Regions from separate parts of the Homo sapiens genome. Here all the other regions are reported to be linked to region 2. The links are microRNA targets in miRTarBase. Many come from high-throughput screens and were not tested one by one. Region 2 holds a microRNA gene; each other region holds the end of a gene's coding sequence.

The links. Region 2 holds the annotated microRNA hsa-let-7i-5p (UGAGGUAGUAGUUUGUGCUGUU, at 3,332-3,353, shown strand). A microRNA usually pairs through its seed, bases 2 to 8, with sites in the 3' UTR of a target mRNA and lowers its output. Matches are read on the target gene's strand: a 7mer-m8 pairs with bases 2 to 8, a 7mer-A1 pairs with bases 2 to 7 and ends in A, and an 8mer does both.
Region 1: the mRNA of ANKRD46 is a reported target of hsa-let-7i-5p. Seed matches in the 3' UTR shown: 7mer-m8 at 4,144-4,150.
Region 3: the mRNA of TNS3 is a reported target of hsa-let-7i-5p. The part of its 3' UTR that is shown has no 7-base or 8-base seed match.

Annotation. Positions count from the first base shown.
Region 1 is chr8:100,518,201-100,523,323 of GRCh38, forward strand. ANKRD46 (ankyrin repeat domain 46) reads right to left here. Exons shown (of 5, transcript NM_001270377.2): 5 at 2,572-4,571. The coding sequence ends at 4,355. Among named protein-coding and RNA genes, the nearest start is that of ANKRD46, 39 kb to the right of the region's middle.
Region 2 is chr12:62,600,360-62,605,618 of GRCh38, forward strand. It overlaps MIRLET7I (microRNA let-7i), which reads left to right and starts at 3,327; the gene lies at 3,327-3,410. It overlaps LINC01465 (long intergenic non-protein coding RNA 1465), which reads right to left and starts at 3,075. Exons shown (of 1, transcript NR_121682.1): 1 at 1,392-3,075. MIRLET7IHG (MIRLET7I host gene) reads left to right here and starts at 2,384. Exons shown (of 2, transcript NR_186001.1): 1 at 2,384-2,476. MON2 (MON2 regulator of endosome-to-Golgi trafficking) reads left to right here. Exons shown (of 35, transcript NM_015026.3): 35 at 1-117. RefSeq lists enhancers at 1,678-2,201, 2,202-2,723, 2,238-2,347, 2,428-2,617, 2,724-3,245 and 1 more and silencers at 2,698-3,007, 3,098-3,397.
Region 3 is chr7:47,273,668-47,278,790 of GRCh38, forward strand. It overlaps TNS3 (tensin 3), which reads right to left. Exons shown (of 31, transcript NM_022748.12): 31 at 1,487-4,553. The coding sequence ends at 4,409. Among named protein-coding and RNA genes, the nearest start is that of SNORD151, 190 kb to the right of the region's middle.

The DNA of each region.
Region 1 (5,123 bases), not on the chromosome of region 2:
AAATAAGCTAAGCTATAGAATGGCTCCCAGATAAGTAGGAGTTAACAACTGTCAAAATCAATAAAATGATTTCACATAAATTATGTAATAGAAACACAAAATAAAGGGAAAGAAATTTATAATAAAATGTATATTTCAATATGTAAATGCTCAGGCCCAGCTACATTAGAAGAAACAACGAAGTCATTACTATCTGTAATAGAATTATGTTGATGACTTAATTATAAGTAGCACTGCTGTCAATAACAAGATTTTTGAAAAGCGGTGCAATTCTTGATAAAGTTTTGAACAAAATGAAGTCGAATCTTCCCTTAATTATCTCGTGGTTGTATTCTTGGAAAATTCATGATACATTAAAACTATATACCAGGCCGGGTGGGGTGGCTCACGCCTGTAATCCCAGCACTTTGGGAGGCCGAGGCGGGTGGATCACGAGGTCAGGAGATCGAGACCATCCTGGCTAACATGGTGAAACCCCGTCTCTGCTAAAAAATACAAAAAATTAGCTGGGCGTGGTGGCACGCCCCTGTAATCCCAGCTACTCAGGAGGCTGAGGCAGGAGAATGGCGTGAACCCGGGAGGCAGAGCTTGCAGTGAGCCAAGATTGCACCACTGCACTCCAGCCTGGGCGACAGAGCGAGACTCTGTCTCAAAAAAAAAAAATAAATAAAATAAAAAAATAAAACTATACCAAATAATACCTTGTTTTAAAATGTGAAATGGTTGGGTTTTAGGTTCAGATATCTAAAATTGTTTGTTTTCTAAACACACGAATGTCCAGCAGAACATTCAAGAATCATGTGGGATTTAGAACAATCCTTTGTTAGACTAAACTGTCCCATGCACTGTGGGATGTAAAACAACTATGGTCCCTGCCCACTGATTGCCAGGAGTGGCCCTAATCACTTCTAAAACCATTAGTCCAAGCTCAACATATGAATTCTACCAACCCCACCCCTGCCAATGACTGGTTCATCAATCCAGGCCTAAGTCAACCTGTGTAAGGGTACTGGTTGGTTTGAGAATGGGGTACATGATATCATGTCAGCCAATGAAACAGCTTGTTTGCATCAAAGTTTCCTACGAGGGAGTCACAGGAAAGACGGTCTCTTCTCTATGTGGTGATAAATGGATGTGATGTCTAAAAATTCTGTACTCATTGCAGAACCAGCTGGAGGAAGCAGCCAACAAGGAGGGCAGGGCAAGAGCACAAGGGAACTGGGCTAAAGATTCTGGATGATGTCACCCTTGGGGTCAACCCTACCTTTTTATGTAAACGGGCTTTATGTAACTGGACTTTCAGTTACATAAACAAATACATTTCCTATGGGGTAAGCCGTTTTGAATTCGGATTTTGGTTCCTGCAGCTGAAAGCACTTTGATACATGCATAAACAATTTCACAAGTCAAAGACTGAGGCCTGGTTTTGAAATAAAAACATAGAAACCAAAACAGCAGCAGTGGCAGGTGAATATTGTTCCTGGGCTTCTACACGAAGTGGTAAACCTGTGGCAGGTGCTGCTGATCGGAAGCCTGCATGCTCCACAGGTGAGGGGGCTCCACACTGCCAGCCTGTATAGTTCGTTCATGAAGCTACAGGCGCACTGTGGAAGGAGGACCAAGCACAGCTCACACCTGCAGCTTGTTGCGGGGGATGCATAAAAGGCAAAGAGCTATTCAACCTGAAAAGAAAAAATATAGCTACAGGTATAAAAGCAATGCTATAAGTATTTGTGTACCAAGAGCTCTACAGGATGCTCTGTAGACAGATGGGGTTATAAAAATAGACTAAGTCCCTGCTCTCATGAAGCTTACAATTAAACAAGTTAGAAAGAAAATCATGTTTACAGAGAAACGGATCAAGGAATGCAAAATACAAGTAATAAAACTGAGTGTGGTAAGTGGTGGGGAAAGGAGGGGTTGGGAAGGAGGCAGTCAAGTACGGTTAACTATGGAAGACTTTCTGACAAGCCAGGGTTGGAGCTTGAATATTAAAGCTTCTACCACTGGGAAGATGTGTAAGAAAGGAAAAAAAGTAAGTATATAGGACCACGAGTGGAAAATTTAGTAATGTCCTGCTGAAATGGTATCAGGCGAGGTTCTGGATAAATATGGTTCCATTTCCAGATTCATGAAAGACAGCGGGACAGGAGGAAAGCACAAGCATAATTGGGGCTGGAGCCTCAATCTGGAATCCCTCTTCCACCAGGTCCTACCTGTTTGACCTTGGACAAGTTACTTAGCCATCCCTGTGTCCATTTTCTCATCTTATAAACTGGGGTCATGTAGTGCTCAAGGGGGCGTAGGGTAAAACTTGCATGCTAAAAACTTGCATAATTGGGAGGGGCTTAATTGTGGTAGTTATGATCATCACCCTTAAATCTACGAGCAATTCACTCAAATTAATTTCACAGTATTTATAAGGCAAACATATATGAAACTCAATATACCTAATACATTAGGTTTGAAAAAAAGCTGTGTTTTAAAAAGCAGCTAATTGCAATCCATTACAAAATCCCCAAATTAAAACTATAATACACTAAAAAAAAAAAAAAAAAAGAGAAATCGTGATTAAGGGATATATAAATACATTTATTGGTGGTATTCCTGAATGATGAATGCAGAGAACAGAATACAAAGAAATCAGCACATAAAAGGAACCATTAATCTTTAAAAATGCTATATACTTACATTTTGACCAATTTTGCATATTTGTTTAGATTTACAAACAAATGTAAAGCTAATTCCAAAGTTTTCTTCTGAATATACTTCAAATTTGAATTGTAGTGTTCTCCATTCCAAAGCCAGCTGTTTTTTGCTGGATTTACACCAACTATGATTTACTTTGTTTGTATCTAACCTAAAAGCAAGACTCTGCAAGCTGATCCTGAAGCAGCCAGTTACTCAGGAATTTTACAACAGCTATTAAAGAGAGGATAAAGCCACATGAAAGAGCAAGCCTCAATACTAGATACATAGATACAAGAGAAAATACCAAGAAGCAAAAAGAATCACAGAAATACCAATTCTATTCTAAAGCATAATTTCTAATTCTAGCAGCAATTCAATTAGCAATAGCTTAGGTGCCTTTATTCCAAAAAACAAAACCATTAGTTCTTTCACTACAATTTCCTGACTTTACCCAATAAATAATTATCAAGCCTTCATATTCTTTTTTAACCACTCAAGAACATAATTCATACATTACAGAATCATTAACAAAAGAGGCCTTCAAACATACTGCTGAAAGCTGCAATATAGTTTGAGGGCCAGATTTCAATTTACATAATATTACCATTCATAAAGAGTTTATGACACCCAGTACGATACTGTCCAGCACTGTTAACTCAGAAATGCTCCATCCATTCTTGCCATCAGAGAATTACAGATATGGATGGGATTGTTAAAAGTCTAACAGGGCCTCCAAATAGGATTGCACATGAAATAATTATGAACTATGATAAAACTGTGACAACACAGCTAGCTTATAGAACTGAGTTTTTCACTATAATAGCACTACAGAATTATGACAGTTAAATATCAGAATTATTTTTCCCTGCTAACTATTCAGTAGAAAAAGGATTTTCTGACTGTAATTCTGATGAACTGTTATCTTTGATGACTAGGATACTCGGGAAAATTGGAAAGTGAACAAAATGAACTCATTTATTTTTCACAGATATTAACAAGCAAAGCAGTTTACAAAAAGATCAAAAATTATCCTAAAAACAAATAAATATAAGATCAAATCAATTATCTTTGAACAAAATATAGCTCATTTTCAAAAGTTTTGTTTGGTTTGTGACTAGACTTAAAAATACTAAAATAAGCCAAATAGATGCTAACAATACTAATTTGCACACAAGATTTGAAAAAAGTACTTCAAGTTTTATCTCTTATCCCTAGAGAAAGTAAATAAAAAGTGGCTCTTGCAAAAATAAATGAAAACAAAACCACCAACAAAAACTAATCATATAAGATACTGTTTTTCTTTTTGAATACTTCAATTGGTCCTATATTAGGATAAGGTTTTGATAGCAAGGACTTCCTAGCTTCTTCCTTTATCTTCCATTCTCTAGTCACTTCCGTGTTTTTATCAAACAAGGCTACGTGTAGGCTTTCCTACAAAGTCAGGTTGAGTCAGAGGTAGCGTTAGGATGCAATATACTTGATCATAGTATGTAGTTAGTTCAAATGAACACATCATTATCTAAAAGGATTACAATAATTAAAAATGCAAAAAGAACATGTACTGCCCTCACTGCTTTGCGCTAAGAAAAATTCTGAGAAACTGAGAACAAACATTGGAAGCCAGGAAACAGGCAATTAATTGCCTCATCTTCCATGAGCTCCTTTAATGCACCAGTTCAGGCTGGTTTTCCACGAAGGGTAGCACCCCACTCACATAATAAGCAATGCCAAGAGACAGCAAAGCAATGACGAAGATCAACAGCAATACTCTCCAGAAGCCCAGATCCTCCACAAACTCCTGCCACGTGGTTCGGAAGCTGGAGAGGACTCCTTCACCTTGCTGCAGGTTGGGATTGAGGAGTGAATGGCTTTCCATGGCACTGTGGAAGAAGAAAGAGCAAAAAGGGCATTAAAAAAACACAGCAATTCCAAAAACATAAAACCACAGGGCTACTATTTAGAAAAGACCAAATACACACACACACACACACACACACACACACACACACACACATATATATATATACACACTCTTACATGCTTACGTATCTGAACAATATATACTAAACTGTAAATTGCTAAATGGTAATGAGTATGTTTCTCTTGGTTTAGAATTTAGTAAACTCAAGTTAAAAATTCTATTTAAAAGGTCCTGGCTGGGCGTGGTAGCTCATGCCTGTAATCCCGACACTTTTGCAGGCCAAGGAGGGAGGATCACTTGAGCCCAGGAGTTCGGGACCAGCCTGGGTAACATAGCGAGACACCATCTCTATTTTTTTTTAAGGTGTCCTGAGCAGAAGTCTTGAAATAGGTTATGAGTTGTCTCCATCAAGATATTAAACCACAACACATTCTTGTTATGTTAAATTTAGAAGATTCAAAGTGCAGACTCATAATTTAAGAATGTGTTAATACGAATAAGCAGACATGCA
Region 2 (5,259 bases):
TATGACAGAAGCTATTTGGAGCGCTCTCAAGTGCTTATTACAGCTAGTCAAGGAAACCGCATATATAAAATAATACTGGATACAAGACTATACAATTAAATACTGGTGTATCACTAACAACTGTTTAGACCCTGTTTTTGCGTTAAGCATTGGGTTAGTCTCTGTCCTCATGGAGTTTTCAGTTTTATAGGGAATACAGACCTTTTAACAAGTATGTAAAGTACAGTAAAAGACAAGTACAGATTAAAATGAAATCATAAAATAGGAACCTTAGCCTAGTCTTCTGTGGTTCAGGTTAATAGTGCTGTTAGTAGTCAGAAGGAAGTTTTTTAAAGAAATGAAAAAGCTCAGTGGTTAAGATAGAAATTAAAGTTAGTCTTGATGGCTACCTAGATTTTGGATGAGTTCAAAGGATATACGGAGGGATTTCAGGCAAGATAATGTGAGCAAGGCATATCTGTGAAATAGAAAACAGTGCATTTTGGTGTATTGTGTGAAACAAGGTTGGTTGTGAAGGATTGGGTCCCTTCATAAAATTCCTTGAAAGCCAAGGAGAGTAGTTTAGATTTGAGATGGCAGGGTCTGGAGTGATTTAAGAATAAATTATAAAACCAAGGAAGATAAACTTGCAATCATAAGCAGGATAGGATATATACAGTATGGAAAGCTAAGCTAGAAAGCTGTTGCAATTTTCTTGCTATGAGGTGATGATAAAGAATTGATTAACGGTGGTCATATTCAGAAAGGATACTTAAGATTCCTGATATGCAGGGAGGGGGGAGAAAAAGTTGATGGTAACAGTACATTATATGTGGATGATGAGTATATTGGTGTTAGCACTGTTAAAAACATTATGGAAAGGAATGTAAGTGATAAAGTAGTATAATGACTAAATTTAGTTGGAAACTACTGCTGTAACAAATCTGTATACCATAGACCAAACAGGTGTTTAGTGGCCATTTAAAAATCTGTGCCATTATGGCAAAGGACATTTGCTTTGGTACAGAATAATCTGATCCACTGCGCAGTCAATGAGCAGTGAGGGTTGATTCCCATGGCAGTCCAATCTTTGCTTATCAAGGAAGGATGGTGTGAAGTTTCTACAGACTTTCTGGTAAGTGATTGATAGATGAGTTTATGGTGTGATTGAGTTTTTGCTTTGAGTTTATGCTTAGTGATTGATAGGTGAGTTTATGCTTTGTCAGGTAAAGCATTTAACTGCAAATGTATTATGTTTACACAAATATTCTTAATTGGAAATAGTTTCTGAATATGCACCTAAAAATGTTCTTATGAAATATGTCAGGCAGGCTGATTTTTAACTTGAAAACTTCTACTTTAAGAAATTGTTTGGGTCCCATCGCCTATACCATGTAGAATAGAAACAAAAAGCCAGTTATTTAATTTTTAATTTGCAATTAAACTCTTGGCCAAGAGGATCTGTTGTCCAAAATTACATCGTGATAGCTTAAGAAAAAAAAAATCTTACTTTGCCAGAAAGGGAATTATACAAGGATATCTTTATGAGTTGCTGCCAAATTTTGTTCTAGACCACGGCCCTCTGGCCTCCATGAAGGATCAAAGTCTGGGCAAAGACAATTCTAAGTTGTAGGTAAACATGCTTTTCATTTCCCTCCATTCCTTACTTTTGTCATAAGCAGTCTGGATTTTCAGGGGTAAAGGCTGATAGGGTTGCCAGATACAGTCATTAAAAATTGAGAATGTGCAGTTAAATTGGAATATCAGATAAACAATTTTAAAAATATATGTAACACACATATGCCAAAACACTGGTTATCTGAAATTCCAATTTAACTGGGCGTCCTGTATTTTATCTGACAAGCCCTAACTACTTCTTTAAAATAATTTGTTAACTTCCTACAAAAAATCTCTAAATGGGAGGAAAAAAAAAATCCCGTAAGTTGTCTGGGCCAAAAGCAGAAGTGGCTCCATGGCAGTCAGCCTTCTCCCTAACTTGGCTTAAAAAGAAAAAGCCAAAACCAGAAGTCCCAAAAGCTTGCGTTTAAAGCGGGCTGTGCCGCAGCTTTCCCGCCTGTTTTCTGCGGAATGTAGCACGGCAGCCACCCCGCGTGGGTGGGGCTCGTATGGTTGTGTCCTTGCTGGTTGGGAAAGGAGGTGCCGGAAACTTCAAACCACGGCCAGGGTACAACGTGTCCGCTTAGGCGGCGATATGCGCCGCCATCTTCTTTGCGGGCAAAGGCCGAAAAAAGTTTGGGACTCCACTCCCCCCCGCTGAGCCGATGGAGGGCATCGCCCGCTGCCTCAGCACTCTGGTGACGTGGAATCGGGGTCCCCTCTTTCAGGGCTGATTTCTGGTAGCACGCTGACGCCTGCCAAGGCAGGGAAAGGGGACGCCGCCTCTGTCCCGGATGTAAGATGGCGGCGCGGGGGGCGGCCTGGCGGGGCGGTCACGTGGTGAGGAGTAGCGCGCGAGCCTCCTTAAGTGATCTCTAAGGTTCGTCCGGACGCACAGGAGCAGCGGAGCGCGAGACGGGTCTTGTGTCCGCACGCGTCGAGTCGTCGCAGTCGCCACCCGGGCCATCGCCGGGCCCGGTTTCACTGTTAAGGGGTTTTCGTTTGTTCCGTTTTCGCCTCCTGTAGAGCTGAACGGGAATTCCCCGAAGGGTGCTGGGGAACGGGTGGCCTGGGGACTTCCCGGCTATGCCTTGGCTGCTGTTTGGCGGAGCCGGCGGCAGCCTCTGCGGGATGCCCGCCGGCGATTATCGGCGCCGAGAGCGGGCCGGCGGCGGGTTCGACAGCGCGGCGCGGGTGGGGGCCCGGGTACCGGACTCGGCCGCAGCCCAGCCCCCACCGGGGACTCGGAGCAGGGAGGGGCGCGAGCGGCGCAGCTCGGGACGTGGCGGCAGCTCCTAGCGGGCGAAGCGCGGGAGCGCTGCTCGCTGCCTCTCGGGGGCAGTCCAGAACCAGTTGGTGTCTGACTGCGCTTTTGCCGCCCATTTCCTGCTTTCGAGCGGCTGAGGCGACGCGCTCCCCTCGGGCAGTGGAGGGAGCGGCTCTCTCCGCAGGACACCGCCGCTTTTCTCTCTTCAGAGCGGTGGCTGACGTACAGAACGCCGGCTGTATCACCCGGGCGCCGGCGCCGCCTCTCATCCCCGTAGCTCTCGGGGCGCGCCGGGAGTAGCCGAGCCGCTGGGTGCTGGGCGGGGTCTCCGGGCGCGGCGCGGGGGGAAGGCAAAGGAAAAGAAGGGGCGGCGGGCCGACGTCGGCGGCGAGGAAGGACGGAGGAGCGCCGGAGCCGCTTTGCTGCCCTCCGCGTGGTCCCGTGCCTCCCCGACACCATGGCCCTGGCTGAGGTAGTAGTTTGTGCTGTTGGTCGGGTTGTGACATTGCCCGCTGTGGAGATAACTGCGCAAGCTACTGCCTTGCTAGTGCTGGTGATGCTCAGCGCCGCGGAGGACAATGGCTGGGAATCCCCTTTGTTTTCCGGGGCGCTGCCTGGGGACAGCCCGCGAAGCCTCGGCGCCCGGCCGGCGCGGCCACCACGGAAACCGTTAGTTTCACATTTTCCTAGAAGGAATTGAGGGGAGTGGGGTGGACCGCGATGCATTTTAAAGGTTGGGAAAGAGCTAAGCCATTGGATTCCTTTTCTTGAAGGAAGGAGTGGAATTGTGTAAGATAATTGATACAGATAACTTTTTCACCCTAAAAAATTCTAACACTTCTTTCAGCAGTTAAATGCCAAATTTAGTGTGTACCTGTTTTACTTCATTCTTTAGCTGTAGGTTGGAGTGGTGTGAGCGATCTGCAGAACTGGCATTAGAGGGGCAGAAGAAGTAGACCTGATAATTAAAGTTTATGCCTTAACATTTTAGATCTGGTTTCTGATATGCTCTCTTAGTAAATCTGAGTGTGTCTTTAAAAACGTAAACCCAAAGCAATTTAAAGTTTCTCTTTAAACTTTGCAACTCGCGAATGAGAAGATTGAAATTATTTGTAGGTAATTGCACTATTCCGATTTTTTAATGTATGAGGCAAACAAATAAATTCTATGTACAGTGTGCTGTGAATGGTTTTGTTTTTTGTTTTTTCTTTTTAGTTTAACCTTGGGGCTCAGATTCTGCTGGTGTGGTGGGTTGGTTTTTTGGTTTTTATGGCCTTTGATTCTAATGTTATGTGGTACTTACATCTTTGAGGTTTTGTATGGGAGAAGAGGACTAGGAATTGAAAGTGGTTTCTAGATTTGAGTTTAAAATCTACTAACACTCATTTTGATTCCTGAGTGGCCACTACTCCTAATAGGAAAATACCTTTGCATAGAGAAAAAAGGTAGTTTGGATAACTAATGAAAATACTCAGTGCTCTAATACCCTGAAGTCTGCGTGGAAAACAAGATACTTGTATTTTTATTTTATTTTCACTGAGGGAAGTAAGTGGTCAGTTTTAGTACTTTTCGTTGAAAACTGATCTGTATTTGTACAGAATAAGTAGTTTTGAATATAATGTAATCGCAGTTTTCTATGGTTTTCTGATGCTCAGTTGAAAAACAAATAAGGCAGTTCTTTAAACCAACCAAACCCTTCAGCAGGAGTTTGATGCTTTTATCATTCAAAAGTGATCTAATATATGTGCCTTGATTGGGTTTGGTTTAGCCTTGAGAATAACCTTACTTAATCTGATCTCATCAGGATGGAGCCGCCTCATTGTGGGAAGGGCGGTGAAGAACCTTATCTTGAATCTTAAGATGCAGAAAATGCTTGAATGTTGGCTCTTGAAGTTTGCTTTTCTTGATAGCAACGCAGAGTAAATTCAGGGCTTTGTTAAGTGCTTGTTTTCTTAAATAATGAAAACCTCTGCGGTGCTGTGTCAAATCTTGGTTTATGGAGAAACTAATCATAACATGCTAATTTCATTATGATTTTATTTTCCAAAACACTTCATTCAACCAACCGAGGTAATCTTCCAACCCACTACACTCTAACATTTTTATGGAGAATCAACGGTTGTTAATCTGCACCCCAAAGTATAACAAATTCTGCTGGTAATTTAAACTTTAAGCGGATAAGCACACCAGAAATGCTCAATGTCCTATACAGATAAACTATTCATACTTTATATCTTGTGTTTTTAAAGTAAATTTTATCCACAACTACATATTGCCCAAATAGTAGTAACATTTTTGAGTTATTGGATGTAAAGGTACTTTGAGAGGTTAACTGTTTCCTAAGTTACAAGAGAAAATACTGCCACCAGCTGACTTGTTTTAATCCCATAGCTATA
Region 3 (5,123 bases), not on the chromosome of region 2:
TCCAATTCATCCTCTGAGACCAGCCCAACTGCCCCTGGTCTGTGAAGTGTGATCCCCAAAGCCATCAGGCAGGCAACCTACCTCCCTGGGGACAGGATGAGACACAGAAGCCCAACTGAGCTACAGACCTACTGTCCTCCAGTGGGCAGATCCAAAGTGTTCATTACACAATAGATCAATGACCCCCCAAGTGGACGGACCAAGGTGCCCACCACATTAATAGAAGGACGACCCCAGTAGGTAAGGCCCAGGTACTCATTAGGTAACAGATTGCTGAGAGATGAATGGGGGACCCATAACATCCTCCTGCAGCAAGTGGCAGGGGCCTGTCCAGCTGAGGTCTCATGGCCACTGGGTCTCTCCAACAGTCCCCAGGGCTGGCTCTGGTCGGGGACCTAGGCACATGTGCACACTGTACGGAGCCCAGTAATTGTGACAAGTATGGTGTTCTTGGGAAGCACACTCCCTAAGCCGCAGTGAAATCAATGCCCTGTCCACCTTTCCACCTTGTGACATTGGTCAAAGGTCTGGGCAATGACTGGCTTCAAAGACTCAATGGGAGCTTCCTGTTGGACAAGATTTAATCTGCCACCACCTGCCCTCTCTTCTGCTCCAAAGCAGTAGTACCGGGACCATTTCAAGTTCACTCTCCCAACATAGCTGGGGTGAAATATCTCTGTGTCTCCTCAGAGTGGAAAGCTACAGTCTCTGGGGGCTGACCACGCAGGCAGAAAACTGTGCACAGGGTGGCAGCTAACTGCCATCTTTATCTGTCCATAACCAAATGAGCCCAAAGCATTGCTTCTTTTCTGGTTTGGATCTGAGGGAGTGAGGTTAGATGGGGTCCTGTGTCCCATCACCTGACTCAGGAGGGAGGGGACAGGCCCAAGAGGGCAGAGTCCGTAGAAAAGGGCAAACTCCCTTAAGGTGGGGAGGGAGGAGCCTTGGCTGGGGGAACAGAAGAGGCAGGTGACACTGGCTGTCTCCAGCATCTGTTGATGTGTAAGTGAATCCACCAGTCTCAATATTCACTTTTAGTGCCCACTTCAATAGACACTGGGAGGTCCTTCAGGAGCTGGCCCACTTCAGGGGTGTGTTTCTGCAGCCAGTGTGTGTGTAGGGGTATTCATAGCAACATCGAAAACATGTCAGGACCCATTATCAACACTGCATTGTGGTTAATCTTCAAAGATCTTTGAATATAACATTTCAAAGGTCTCTGGGCAGAAATCTTAATATATTCCTGACAGCAAAACATTTGTGATTTTATAACTGAATCCACTGATTTGTAAACACACAGACACACATTCATGAACGAGCACACACGCAGACGCACAGACACATGTGGACAAAGATACATCTGTGCAAGCACATGCACACATTTGCAGAGACACATACACAAAAGTGCACACATGCACACGCATACACACATGTGCAAACACACACAAACATACTTCAGGGTACACAAATACCGTCTCACGGAGGCTTACCAAGTTCATAATTTTATTATACTCTGAATAGAGATGATATTTAAGGAGCAGAGAAAATGACTATACAAAAGATTTATAGAACATTCATTTACATACTGGATATATTCTTTACAGTATCAGAAAAGTAAAAATATGCACTAACAAGGCAGAGAAGACGTTACAAGGTATTTGATGCTGAGAATAAATGCACAGTGACTTTTAACATGGCTATAGCTTAACACTGGAGGAATACAACAATACGTTCTTTTACTGAGTAGTTAGTAGGACCCTGGCTATAACATGCGTTGGGCACAGTTCGTGAACTCTCCGCATTTACTCCCCAGGGCAGTACGTGCCTGTCCAGCGGGAGCCCTGGAGACAAAATGCCTGGAAACGTTCCTTTTCCTGTGGCCCTAGAGCCGGTGTCCACGGTGGGGGCTCTCTCACGGTTTCTGAGCCCACAGTACAATCTGTGATGACACACAGCTTGTTCTGTTTAATGCACATGTAACACAAAAGGAAGAAAGAAACTTCCTATACCAGCTCTTCAGAAATCGTGGAAACTTGCTTCCTTTGGTTCCTCAGAGGGAGCTATCTGCTTGGAGCAAATTCCCCGATGCCCTTGACCACGTTTACCTTGTGTAAAAATCACACCTGGCCAATGAGTTCAAAAAGCACGTTTGCAGGGCTTCCTGAATGCCGTCGAGGCATGGCTTCATGAGGGCCATCGCGGGCACCCCGATGTCTCTGTGATTCCCTGGCAGGCTGCGTTTCTCAATACTGAGACCCTAGTTTGCTCTGACTTCTAAATGAGCTCTCTCATCCTTCATCAGAAGGATAAGGAACCTGGCCTGCACTCTTTGGGTTAAACATGGGTAGAGACCGTCTCAGGATGAGGACCTCTTGGGGAAAGTACAAACCTCTGCTCCCTGTGGCCACATTCCTGCAGTGGATGAAAAACCGAGATGCTAGAGGCCTCTGCTAAAGACATCAGGGTCAACACATGAGGATCTGCTGAAAATGCCAGCACCTCCTGACAGTCATGCCACCGCAAGTTAGAGAAGGAGGTCCACAACGACCAAGGCAAACATTTGGCACAGAAATGAGGCACTTGGTTTGGTGCATCAATAGGAGCTAAAAAGTGGAATGGTCCACCTGCTTTCACACACGCATACACGCACGCATGCACACACGCACACACACACAACACCCACTGTGATTTGGCTGCTTCCAACTCTGCCTGTTTCTAAGTTTTCCTCGGCCCCTCACTTTAAAGCAGAGTTCACAAAGCACATTCCCAAACCCCAGCTCCCTGACAGGAGCTTGTGACACCAGTGTGGCCTAAGAATGGGGGATTTGACTTTTGAAAGCAGAGGAGGGAATTTCGGGCTGGATCGCAATCAGGACAGTCAGCATGCCTGCAGAGCACCTAGGCTGTGAGAGGATGGGGCCAAGGCCTTATTCTGATGTGGCCCAGCTCCATCTTTCACTCTGGGGATGTTCCAGGGTCACAAATTCCCCCAAACCTTTGACCACGAACAGATTCAAGCAGGAAAACCAGGGCATTGGAATGTTGAAATAAGCCTGAAATACACTTGATTCAGTGGCTTAGATGATGGCAAACAGTGGCACTCAAAAACAGCTTGTCAGTACCGGGGTTTCTTCTCTTTTTCCTCATCCTCCCTTCTGCTCACACATGCCACAACCACACATGGTCCCCAGCAGGAACCCCAAGGTGGCAAGGAGCAGCACAAAGAGGGCTGATAAATGCAGGCGAACTTCAGGTCGTGCAGCTTCAGGCCTGAAGATGATCGAAAAGCCCATGTGGGGGATGCTGAGCTTAAATCCAGGAGTTTTCCATCCCTCCTGGACTCTCTCCATCAGAAAAGAAGTCATCCACAATCGGGGAAAAACATTCCAATGAGTAAAACATCAGGGTAGGTTGCTTGAGGCAAAGCCACCTTTGGGCGGCACCGCATATGGGAGACCCACAGTCCACTGCACACTCTTTCAGTGGCCAGGGGCCTGCGGTGCATCCTACATAGGGACAAGCCTCACAAAATCACAGCTTGGCAGGCTGCAGCATTTGACACTGGTACAGTATAGCAATGGCAAATTATCATAAATAATTTGGCATAAGTAAAATATAAATTACATAGAAATAATATTTTTGTTCCTTCTTCTCATTTCTCCTCTCGGTCCTCACAGGCTCTCCCCAGCCCAGCTCGCCCAGCTCGCCCAGCTCGCCCAGCTCACCACAGGTGAGCAGGAGGCACAGAGCACTCACCATGGTGGGGTGGCATGGGGTCTCCAACGTGGCCAATTCTTCCCACCACCCCCATCCTCACAGCCCATCGCAAAGGCCCCTCGTTGTAGGCCCTGCTGTGTTCCAGAAGGGCCTGACTTGCACAAACCTTCGTCAAACATACGCCCCCTTCTCAGTTTCGTTAGCATCTCCATCTTGGGAAGACCGAGGTGAGGGAAACCCCCGGCCTCGGGTGCAGCTGGACAGAAGCGCCCATGCGGACGGGCGAAGCATGGCAGTCACTCGGCACCTCTGCCTCAAGGGCTGGGGATTCCTCATCCCCCGGAATGCTAGTGTGCCAGGGACATGGGGACCACCTCGTGTTCTGTGCTGTTTCCTTGCATGTCCCTTTCCCATGGGGACCCTAGGGGGTGGGGTGCACCCATGCCCAGCTTCTTCTACCCAAAAAGCATGTGGCTACAGAGATGTGTCAGATAAGTCACTTTCAGGAAAGGCCAATTCACGGTGATGTTGTTTGTTCTTGTTTTTGCAGAGCTGGAAGATCCTCTTTCCCCTCATGGGCCTGGAATGTCAGGTTTACTAGTTTGGTAAAAAGTGGGGGCCCCACCCTCACCCAACGGCTGTCTCCAGGGCTTCGAGAGGCATCGGTGGGTCCAGGGAGGGAGGGGAGTTCTCAGACCTTCTTTGGGGAACCAATCATGACCTTTGATACGAAGTTGACAATGGCACTGGCAGGCTGCTCAGGGTCATGCTCTGCAAACAGGTGGCACACATTATCCGTGGCACTGCCCTGCTTCCGGGCCACAAATCCAAAGACTCTGCCAAAGGAAAGTCCAGTCAGAGTGGTCAGTGTCCCACAAAGTACCAAGCTTCTACTTCCTCCAGCTGCCAGCGGCACTGTCAGGAGGAATTTTAAGTGGCACCTATCAAAAATCAACCACGTGCCCAGCACCCTGCTGGCCACCTGTTCATGCACTTTACCTCCAGCCTTCACAGACCTACAGATGGGATGTCTGACTCTAGCTCTGCAGTGAGGACCCTGAGGCTGAGAGGTGAGTGCCCTGTCCACAGCCCCAGGTTAGGACCTGAATCAAAGCTGAGGCTCAACTTCCTCTATAGATGCTTCCCCACGCCAGGGCCAGAATCTCCTGGGCACCTGTCCCTGCAGATTCCTGAGCCCCAGTCCTGACATACTGGACCACAGTCTGCAAGGCGAGTGGCAAGGGACTCAGGGGCTCCTGAGATGATGCCAGAATGCAAGTCCTGTCTGGACTTCGACACTCCCACCCACTGGGACCGAAGGGGAAATACACTAGGCGCTCCTCTCAGGCCTTGGAAGCCTGCATTACAAACTACATAGACTTCAGGGAGCTGTTTAAAAAGAACAG